3 linked regions of the Homo sapiens genome follow. The protein of the gene in region 1 purifies or fractionates together with the protein of each later gene. This does not show direct contact. Each region holds a gene or a part of one and is shown in the gene's direction. Other genes may lie near its edges.

What was found.
Region 2: the proteins of CAPN13 (region 1) and PPP1R10 purify together in Homo sapiens (affinity purification with mass spectrometry; 2 studies listed by BioGRID and IntAct, with this or other methods). This does not show direct contact.
Region 3: the proteins of CAPN13 (region 1) and KCTD7 purify together in Homo sapiens (affinity purification with western blotting, with the first as the bait; one study listed by BioGRID). This does not show direct contact.

Annotation. Positions count from the first base shown.
Region 1 is NC_000002.12:30,751,811-30,755,463, reverse strand, and holds part of CAPN13 (calpain-13), read left to right. Parts: intron 1-1,099; coding exon 1,100-1,174; intron 1,175-2,265; coding exon 2,266-2,411; intron 2,412-3,653.
Region 2 is NC_000006.12:30,610,739-30,614,391, reverse strand, and holds part of PPP1R10 (serine/threonine-protein phosphatase 1 regulatory subunit 10), read left to right. Parts: intron 1-3,653.
Region 3 is NC_000007.14:66,631,800-66,635,452, forward strand, and holds part of KCTD7 (BTB/POZ domain-containing protein KCTD7), read left to right. Parts: intron 1-1,475; coding exon 1,476-1,645; intron 1,646-3,653. UniProt on the Homo sapiens protein: May be involved in the control of excitability of cortical neurons.

The DNA of each region.
Region 1 (3,653 bases):
GTATGCTATTAGGCATGCAATTACTTTTGCACCCACCTAATACATGCCAAGGCATGGGCAAAACACCTGTGATGATAGGATGGCCAGCCAGGCTCAGGAATCTCATGGTTCTGGGAGTCTAGTGAGACATAGCAACCAATACACAAAGTAATGGTAACACAGTGGGCTATGGAAGCTCAAAAGACCTGGAATAGAGGGCATTTGGGGGCCAAGCAAGGCTTCCCAGAGGCAATGCCCTTTAAGAGGAAAGATGAGTAAGAGCAGGTTACAGAACTGAGAGGAGGAAGAGGGCGCCAGGTGCAGGGGGAGCATCAGGGTGAAAGTTGGGCTTGGGGGGGTGGTGTTTTAAGGAAATGAAGACACTATTGCTGGAGAGTAGAATTCAAGAGTGGGGGTAAGGTGAGAAAGCAAGAAACTGGTAACATCGGAGAGGGTGGCAGAGGACAAAGTTCTCTTTAAGGAGTGTGAACTTCACCTTAAGAATAATATGGAACCACTGATAGGTTTTAAGTAGGGAAATAATATAATCAAGTTTACATTTTAGAAAGATCATTTCAATGGCAGTGTGGGAACGGATGGGAAAGTGGGCAGAACTGAGTTCAGGGAGACCAGGTGGATATCCAGAGGGAAGGGCAGGGAGCCTGAACTAGGGTAACAGCAGGAAGGATGGAAGTAAGTGCCTGGCTTTGAGAGGGGTGTAAGAGGTAGGATCAATCAATGAATGCTATTTGATGATTGTTTGGATGTGGGGGTGTGAGAGAGGGACTCCTCATGTTCTCGCTCAGGCAATAGGAGGTGGCAGAGGATGGGTACAGTCAGGGACAGGTTGATTTGAGGTCACTATGGGACTCTCTTGGAAATGTGGGGTGAACTACAGCATAAATCCATCTGGACTTCAGGAAAGAAGACCAGGCTGGGGACAGATGTTTGGAAGTCGTCAACAGGTAGAGAATAACTGGGTCCTGTCCTAGGTAGGATGACACTTGCCCTGTGCTCCCCAGGAATGGTGACATGTACAGAGGGTCCCTGTTGACCCACACATGGTTGAGAAAAAATGCACTGGAAAATCTCACCCTGTGGTTTGTGTGTCCATGCTCAGGTCTCAGGAGTGGGAGGAAACCTGTGATCCGCGGAAAAGCCAGCTACATAAGAAACGGGAAGATGGCGAGTTTTGGTATTTACCCTTCTTATACAATGGTGTTTTAAATCTTTTATTGCCCAAGTCTTCAATCCCTACCCTTTTCCCTGAACATTTACGAAGGTGGAAAATAGCTTTGCAGAGACCTGTTTAGAGGGAGCCTATTTTCTCTACCAAGACACAAAAACTTTGGATGAAAAATTATTGTAGGCTCCCTCTTGGTGGGAAAGTTATTTCAGTTATGAAATGCTGAACTTTCCAGGACATTTTAATAGTAAAAGAGAACATTGGCACCAAAGGCTTGAAATCTGTGGTTTCCTGGAAGCTAGGATGCATGGTTGTCATGCCCATATCCTCTGTACCATCTTGCTGGGACCCTCGAGCTCCCCAGTTTCCTCTAGCATGACGTCAAAAACAGCAGCAGGATGCAGACTCTATAGCTCTGGGTGAGACATGGACTTCATCACCCAGAAGTCACACAGGACTAGATGTTTTGAAAACACGTTCTCGGCCATATGCTCACATCTTAGAGCATGACGTGTACATTCCTCAGAGGGTTGTCTGGTTTACGGAGTGATGCATTTCAATGGAAATTAGCATGTGTGGAAAGGAGCATGGATCTAAATAATTAAGAATCAGAGGGACAAATATAAATTAGAAGGAAATCTTTCCCAGTATCTCTGGTTTAATCACAGTAGGAGGTGGGATTTTAGGTGTGGAATCCATTTTAGGCTGATAAAGACCTCAACAATAAATTTGGCAAAACACCCTAGGGGAAAAGCAATTTTCCTAGCAGCTTAGAGGACCCAGAGCAGAGAGAGACTGGCCGTCGTCCCACTGATCATGAAAGGGCTCACCATCGGATCAATGGGTTAAGGAGATGGCAGTAAATGATAAAGCTGCTGCCAGGTGACCGGCAGACCCCAGAACTTGACTGTGTCCTTGCCTTGCCCTCCCAGCCACTGGAGCAGAAGGACTGAAAAGATAGAAGGGTGCTTGATGGTGAATGAGCCAGGATCAGACACTGGCCTCTGGGCAGGACAGTGGCTATGCTGTGAAGTCATAGGAACCCCCACCCTGGGGACACAACCCCTGGTCACTGAGTGATGTATATCTGTTTTTAACAGGATGTCGTGTCAAGATTTCCAACAGAAATTCATCGCCATGTTTATATGTAGCGAAATTCCAATTACCCTGGACCATGGAAACACACTCCACGAAGGATGGTCCCAAATAATGTTTAGGAAGCAAGTGATTCTAGGAAACACTGCAGGTAATCATGACGCTGGTGGTCACACTGCCCAACTGGAAGCTGGCTGCCCCAGCCCAGCCCTTGCATGGCTTCAGCTCTCTCTGGTCCTTGATTCTGGACCATGAGCCTGAAGCTGAAAGGAGGGGAGTTTGTCAGCATGAAGAGACAGCGACTGCTCCTCTAAGTAAAATGATTGCTGTAGGGGCCAAGTTGGAGAATCTCTGATGTGATTCTCCCCTAGCCCTCCATGCTGTGCCAATATCCTTCCACTAACACCCTCCCGCTTCCTGGGAGGAGAGTGGGCTCACCACCCTCCAGTAAATGTCCAGGACAAGGGAGAGCGCTGCAGAAAGAACACAGGAAAAGTGTCAGGGCCTAGGTTGGACCCTTGTCTTTGCCACATACTGGCCTTGTGATGCTGGAAACATAATTGGTCACCCTGTCCTCAGCCTCCCCAAGACTCAGCAGTGGAAATAGTCATACTTGTCTGTCCTTGAGCCTAGAGAGCACTACCTAGACACAAGGGAGACTATCCCTGCCCTGTCTTGGCAGGTATGTCCCTGCTGAAGTCCCACAGGTAGGCGCATCTGAGCCTGTCTTTGAGCTCCCCTGAGATGAATCTTGTTGATCATGGCCTTGGGAAAGTCACATTCCCTCCCTGTCCCTCTCATTCCCTGTTTGTGGCATTGTTGAGTGAAATAGCTCCCTGTGAAGACGAACAAGAGTGTGCTTATATATCTTTGATAAAAGAGGCTGCGTAAACAATGCATTTGTGTGTGTGAGTGTGTTTGTTGTGTGTTTGCACCCAGGGATGCATATGCATCCCTTCCTCTGGGCACCTGCCTGTCGGGATGGTTGGTTTGAATGAGCCCATAACCCAGGGTGTCCCTCTTTTTTACCTCCAGGCTCTAGTGATCTACAGAACTTCTGCCCAGAGAGCCTTGTCACCAGGAGGTCTTGGGCAGAACCTCAAGAGCTGTTGAGTCACTCTTGGGCAGCAAATTTACTGATTCCTCTTCCTGAGCTGCACCTCTCTGATTATAGGGCCAAGGCCCTCTCCCCTGGATACAATGCTTGTCAATGAACTAACAAAACCTTTACATCAGGGCCATTTTTAGTAATACGTTACAATGGAAAAAGAAAAGAGAGCCAGTGATCGAGCACCTGCTATGTGCTGCAGATGCATTTTAATGCACCATCTTCTCCAGTCCTCGCAGCACGTCCATGCTATGATGGTCCTCTACGCCTCCCCACTCCCTTGCA
Region 2 (3,653 bases), on another chromosome or scaffold:
TGTAAACTCAAGGCAGGGGGAATCAAGCTACGGTTTCTGGTAAGCAAAACCTTTCTGGTATTACATTTCACAACTTTCATTTTTTTTTTTTCCCCAAAGAGCCACCTTTTTTGAATTTCTTTTTCCTTCCCTTCTAAAAGAAATTCCTAAAAGCATTAATGAAAAAATGATGTCCTCTTCATTTTTCAACTCATGCAGTGCTGTGGCATTTGGTGCATGTTCAGAAGCCATGCCCTATCTGAGGGTGGTATTGGGTGTCTGGTTCCTTTCTTCCCCCAAATTTTTCAAAGTCAAATCTTTATCAGACTCTCCATATAATTTTAATTTTTAAAAGTCCTGCACTGAAGCGTGGAGGTTCTAGGCAGAATTGGAAAGTATAACTGCCCTCTGGTGACCTGGGTGAGACTTAGGGCTAACTTCCTACTGGGTACAGATTCTCAAATTATTACTTAAGCTTCTGGATTGGATGGGAGGGACTCTTCACATGTCTGTTGACTACAAGCTTTTTTTGTTTTGTTTTGTTTTTTTCTTTTAAGCAGTTTGCCATGTGCCTCTGCAGCATATCTTCCTTGGGAGCTGAACATTCTACCCACTGGGGTTCCTGATCTCTAGTGAGCCAGGGGATTAATAAAGAAGATCTTCCTTAACATGGGAGATGGGAAGCCAGGTCTACTAGGGGAACCACATCCATTCAGAAAATCTTGGAAAACCTGATCCTTGTAGTTTGTGGCCAGAGTTCTAGTCTGGGGTCTTTTTCTATGAGTCAGGGTGGTATATCATTTTGCATCTTTATTGGAAGGCAGATAAGCTTTTGAGGAGCTCATGTATCAGGTTTGCAAAATGACTGAGGGGTAGGGGCTTACTACTTGGAAGAAAGCTATGACCTTGTGATGAATCACCTGAGAGACATAATTCAGTCCACTATTGTGTCAAACTAGGAAGTGCCTAAAACACTGAAGAAAGGAAGGGGAACATAAGGGGTTAGGTACAAATCATTTTCATTTCCAGAAGTGCCTCTAAATTAAGGTAAATTTGGGACTTTTTTCTCCTTTTGTTAGAAGACAGTTATTTTTTAAAGAGCTCTGACTTGCACAGAATTTTTATCCTGAACCAATTCAGTCCTGTTTCATTGGTGATGGGTGTGGAATAACTTTAGCTATGCTGGATATTTTTTCACCCTATTTAATTGAATAACCCTCAAGTAAAATTCATTTTGAAGGCAGGAGTTGGTGTCACAGACGTTTATCTCTGGTAAAAATGGTAGAAAATTCCCCAATGCCTTGTGCCAGTAGAGTATGGCTCTGCCTGAAACATTCTCCATAAGGAACGCATAGCTTAGGATGAGGTGGAGGTAGGCCAGGGGGTTGCTACCTCACTCCCCACCTTCTGTATGTTCTGCAGTCAAGAAAATAGCAGCTCATTAAAAGAAGACATAATCATGCCGTGGATTACTTGTGGTTCCAGAAAGCTTTCTTAAGCTTTCATTCTAGACTCCAGATCTTGAGTAGGTAATGTTACAACACTTAGTCACGGCCCCTGCCTGCCTTCATCAACTCAGTTTGCCTTCTCTGCTGTAGCCCTGTGCCCGAAATGTTGGACTTTACATTCCTTTCCACTTGAGCGCCTTGGAAATTGTTTGGTTTTTTTCCAAAATATACTGACTTCAAAGCAAGGAAACTAGGTTATAAGACACTTGGGGTCCTTAATTTTAAATAAGAACTAATCTTCCTGAAGGAAGGCCATCATGAGAAAACCCACTTACATTTTATCAAGATTGGTGCTCATGAGACAAAATTTCACTTATATTTCCAAAATATAAGTAGTGGAAAATGAATATTTAACGCTAATTTTGCTTTGTCTCTTAGCTTCCCTTTGACTATTAATGTCTTTTATTCTTGTTTATACATGTGGGAATAAAAAAGTCCCTGGATCCCATTTCCAGCAGAGGGCACTGGACAGAATTTAGCTTTGTACTCATTGGTCCATTTTTCTAAGACTGGCTCTTCTTTCTTGTCTCCCATCCTCTTAAGGAACACTTGAGCTCAGATGACAGTTTATTTAGTGTCTGAAGGAAATAGGGGTAGTAGGTCTATTTATTGGCTTAGCTTGTAGTTGGATATGCAAAAAGGAATTCTCCAGGGTTATATATATTCAACTCTGGGTTTGAATCAGTCAAGGGTAACTGGTTTGAAATGATGTTTAATTCAAGGCCTTTTGTCAAATTGCATATATTTTGCTTTAGGAATCTAATGGTAGGTATGTGTGTATATATAGAGAGAGGGAGTTTTAAAAATTTCTTAGTCTCTTGATTGCTTATGATATGTTGTTATTGGAACCCATACATTGCTTTTCCAGTCTCCAACAGATGTGATATCTGTTTTATGTGTCCCTTTATCGTATCTCTTTATAGTTTCTATAGATCACTTTATAGTATCTCACTACATGGGAAGAATACCTTTATTTCTGTGTCTGTCTCTGTGTGTGTAGGAATCACCACACTTGAGTGGATTTGGCCCACGGACATCTAATCTTTTCCAGTATTCTCCTTGAATGTTTTTTCTCTGACCTCAGGTTCCACTTGTATTTGTGGAGGTTCCAGGGCAGCAGCGACTTCTCAACATTTCTTGCCTCATCTCTCCCTCTGTTCAGCCCACAGGTTATGATCTCCAGAGCCAAGATTATACTCCTACCCTTCCTGGCTGCCTCCTCCCTGCTTCTGCTGCTGCTCGCCTAGGTTGTTAGGACCTACACATTTGGAAACTTACTGACGTTTTTGTTGGGAGGACAAAAAGGCTGAGATTGTTATGCTATGTTTTTTCTTTTGTTTGAGAACAAGTAGAACTAATTTGCATTGTCTTACAAGAAACCTGTGTTTTTTCCGGCACAAAACTACTCATCTTTGTAAAATACTGATTTTTCTACCCTTCTGCTGGGATTGTGTCTGTTACTTCTGTGCTAGATGTAGGATGAGGAAGGTTTTGTTCTTGCCTCTTCCTTGCTACTCAGTGTGGGCCTTATTGCCCAAAGGCAGATATTGCTGAAGTGGCTTTCTTTTTTGGTGGTTTTTTGTTTGTTTGTTTTTGAGGCAGCGTCTTACTCTGTCTCTCAGGCTGGAGTGCAGTGGCACAATCACAGCTCATTGTAGCCTCAGTATCCCTGGGCTCAAGCAGTCCTCCCGTTTTCCCACGTCAGCCTCCCGGGTAGCTGGGACTACAGGTGCACACCATCACACTCGACTTATGTTTTGTAGAGATGAGGTTTCGCCATGTTGCCAAGGCTGGTTTCAAACTCCTGCGCTCAAGGAATCTGCCCACCTTGGCCTCCCAAAGTGCTGGGATTACAGGCATGAGCCACTGCACCCAGCCTCTTTTTTGGGTCTTAGAAGCAAGTATTTAGAGGCAGTGTAGATAAAAATCCCAATCAGAACCATATTGATCCTAAATTACCTTTCTGGAACTTCAGTTCTGGCTTGTCCCTTCCATAAAAGGAGCTTAGCTTTTAACTAATTCCCTTCCCAACCTGGTCTAAAACAGCTGCTTAAAAGGGAATTTTTCTAGCATTTGGCTTTATCTGTTCCCTTTTTAGGTTCCATGGTTTTCAGTTTTAGGCTTTCCTAGGGGATCTTGTACAGCGTGATTTTTGAGGAGAGGACC
Region 3 (3,653 bases), on another chromosome or scaffold:
TCCAGAACCTTAGCTGGACCGGAAACCAGGCTCACTCTACAGATTAGGAGAGGAGTAGATGCCTGGAAGTATTCAACACACAACTACTGAGCTCTGCTGTGGGCAGCCCATGATTGGTGACCAAGATGCTTTCCCTGTCTTTGGGAAGCTTGGGGTCTAGTGGAGTGAATTGACAGAGGGAAATAATTGGCGATGTATCGTGCTAGGTGCTATTATAGAGGAGAATATGACACACGGTGAAGGCACAGTCGAAGAATGTGTCATTAACTCTGTCCTAGGGGCAGGTGAGGGACAGTAGACAGAAATGCTCACAGATGAGGGGAACTTGAATAGAAATTTCTAGAATGAGTAGATGCCACTAAACTGTATGGTGTGTTGGTGTGAATTAGAAAAAGGGCACATAGCAGGCCGGGCGTGGTGGCTCACGCCGGTAATCCCAGCACTTGGGGAGGCCAAGGCGGGCGGATCATGAGGTCAGGAGATCGAGACAATCCTGGCTAACACGGTGAAACCCTATCTCTACTAAAAATACAAAAAATTAGCCAGTCGTGGTGGCAGGCACCTGTAGTCCCAGCTACTCGGGAGGCTGAGGCAGGAGAATGGTGTGAACCCGAGAGGCGGAGGTTGCAGTGAGCCGAGATCGCGCCACTGAACTCCAGCCTGGGTGACACAGGCTGGGACTCCGTCTCAAAAAAAAAAAAAAAAAGAAAAAGGGCACATAGCAGATGACTCTCATCCAGGTGCTTTTATGCAGTGAACAACCTATAACACTGTATGGGTCCATTTAACTTGCCATATAGACAGAAGAAGGAGACTGGTAAGAGCATTTTGGGCAAAGAAGACAATGTGAGCAAGAGCACTAAGATAGTAAATTCAGGAAGTGAAAGGACACTGAAGGCTTGAGCTCTAGAGCAGCGATAATGGAGTTGAGGTGGAGAGACCTGATTTAAAAGCTATCAGGGGGCCAGGCACAGTGGCTCATGCCTGTAATCCCAGCACTTTGGGAGGCCGAGGCAGGTGGATCATGAGGTCAGGAGATCGAGACCATCCTGGCTAACGCAGTGAAACCCCATCTCTACTAAAAAAATATATATATATATACAAAAAATTAGCCGGGTGTGGTGGAGGGCGCCTGTAGTCCCAGCTACTCCGGGAGGCTGAGGCAGGAGAATGGCGTGAACCCGGGAGGCGGAGCTTGCAGTGAGCCAACATCACGCCACTGCACTCCAGCCTGGGAGATGAGTGAAACTCCATCTCAAAAAAAAAAGAGCTATGAGGGTTAGAATGGGTAGGACTTGGCAGATGATGAGGGTGGGGCAGAGGGAGGAGAGAGAAGAAAGTGTTCAGATGGACCCGTGGGCTTGAGTGACTGAATGAATGGTGTGGCACCAATCAGACCCCAGGGATTGAAGATGGAGCAGCCCCAGCTCTCATTCCCCGTTGCCTGCCTGAGAGCCCTGGTGATTTCTTTCCAGTTTCCTGAGGTTGTTCCCCTTAACATCGGAGGGGCTCACTTCACTACACGCCTGTCCACACTGCGGTGCTACGAAGACACCATGTTGGCAGCCATGTTCAGTGGGCGGCACTACATCCCCACGGACTCCGAGGGCCGGTACTTCATCGACCGAGATGGCACACACTTTGGGTATGTCTCTCCCTCTACAATCAACTTTGTAGTCCTAGCAGGTGATTAGCGTAGGCTTGAGTATGGGACCTTGATATCTTCCATAGTACCTAGAAGAGGAGATAGCATATTGATGAAATTTAATAAATGGGTTTATTGAAAGAGATCAATTTTTTTTTTTTTTTTTGCCAAAGGAGACAAAGACAGCCAGAGAAATTCGAAATAACACACTGGCTGGATGAAATTGCTTCAATCATAGACAATTAAACAATTTTTATTTTCAGCTCTGCGCGGTGCTCATGCCTGTAATCCCAGCACTTTGGGAGGCTGAGGCAGGTAGATCACTTGAGGCCAGGAGTTCCAGACCAGCTCATTACAGCATGGTGAAACCCCATCTCTACTAAAAATACAAAAATTAGCTGGGTGTGGTGGCTCATACCTGCAATCCCAGCTACTCAGGAAGCTGAGGTCGAAGAATCGCTTGAACCCAGGAGGCAGAGGTTGCAGTGACCCGAGATCACGCCTCTGCGCTCCAGCCTGGGCGACACGAGATTCCATCTCAAAAAACAAAACAAAATTTCATTTTTATTTATTTATTATTTATTTATTTATCTCATTATACACCCACACACACAGATGTACACATACATGCACACATATATATATATGTATATATGGGTGTGTGTATACATATATATATATATATATATATATGTATATATATGAGCTCTGATGCACTGAGGCTTCCACTGGTCTTGATGTGTGTGATTCTATCTATCTATCTATCTATCTATCTATCTATCTATAAAAATAAAGATAGGATCTTGCTGTGTTGCCCAGACTGGTCTCAAGCTCCTGGCCTTAGGCAGTCCTCCCACCTTGGCCTCCTAAAATGCTGGTATTACAGTATTTATTTAAGTTTTAGGTGTTGTTTTTTTTTCGGGGGCTGTTTTTTTGGAGATAGGGTCTTGCTATGTTGCCCAGGGTGGAATGTAGTGGTTGTTCACCAGTGCCATCATAGCTCACTGCATCCTTAAACTCCTGGCTCAAGCAGTCTTCTCCCTTCAGCCTCCTGAATAGCTGAGACTACAGGTGTGCGCCACTGCACCTGGCTGTCCTATGCAATATGAGACCAGGAAGTTGTCATCTGTGTGGAGAGGAATAAGTGTAATCCCACATAGGGGGATAGTCTAAAACAACATGGAGAGTACCTTTAGACCTGGATTTTGGGGCTCAGCGTTGCCATGGGAAGGAGGCATGGTGTGTAGCAGTGGTTACCAGACTTCTTTCAGTAGTTTAAAGGAATAAAAAGAGATGGAAGACTGATACAGTGTTGTTCTTTAATTTTGCCAAGGAAAGTCTTTAAAAAAAAAAAAACCCTCTGTTGTTCTTGTCACTTAACACTAAAATGTGGAAAAACACAATGTCAACAACAGCAAAATAGCAGCCAGGCGTGGTGGTACTTGCCTGTAGTCACAGCTACTTGTGAGGCCGAGGTGGGAGGATTGGTTGAGCTCAGGAGTTGGAGTCTGCAGTGAGCCATGATCCTACCACTGTGCTCCAGCCAGGGCAACAGAGTGAGACTGTCTTTTTTTTTTTTTTTTTTTTGAGTCAGCGTCTTGCTCTGTTGCCCAAGCTGAGTGCAGTGATGCAAGCACAGCTCACTACAGCCTTGACCTCCCAGGTGCAAGCAATTTTGCTGCCTCAGTTTCCCAAGTAGCTGGGACTAGAGGTGCACACCACCACGCCTGGCTAATTTTTGATGTTTTTTAGAGATGAGGTTTCACTATGTTGGCCAGGATGTTCTCGAACACCTGGACTCAAGTGATCCTCCTGCCTCAGACTGCCAAAGTGCTGGGATTACAGGCCCAGCCTGTAGTTTGTGTCCGGCCCGGCCGAGACTCTGTGTCTTAAAAAAGAAAACAAAACCTTTCCCAAGAAAGGACTTCTGACAGTCTTACATGTAAACAATTTAAAGACTTTATGTCTCAGGGGTTCCATGTTTGTGAAATGAGAAATAATTATAGCT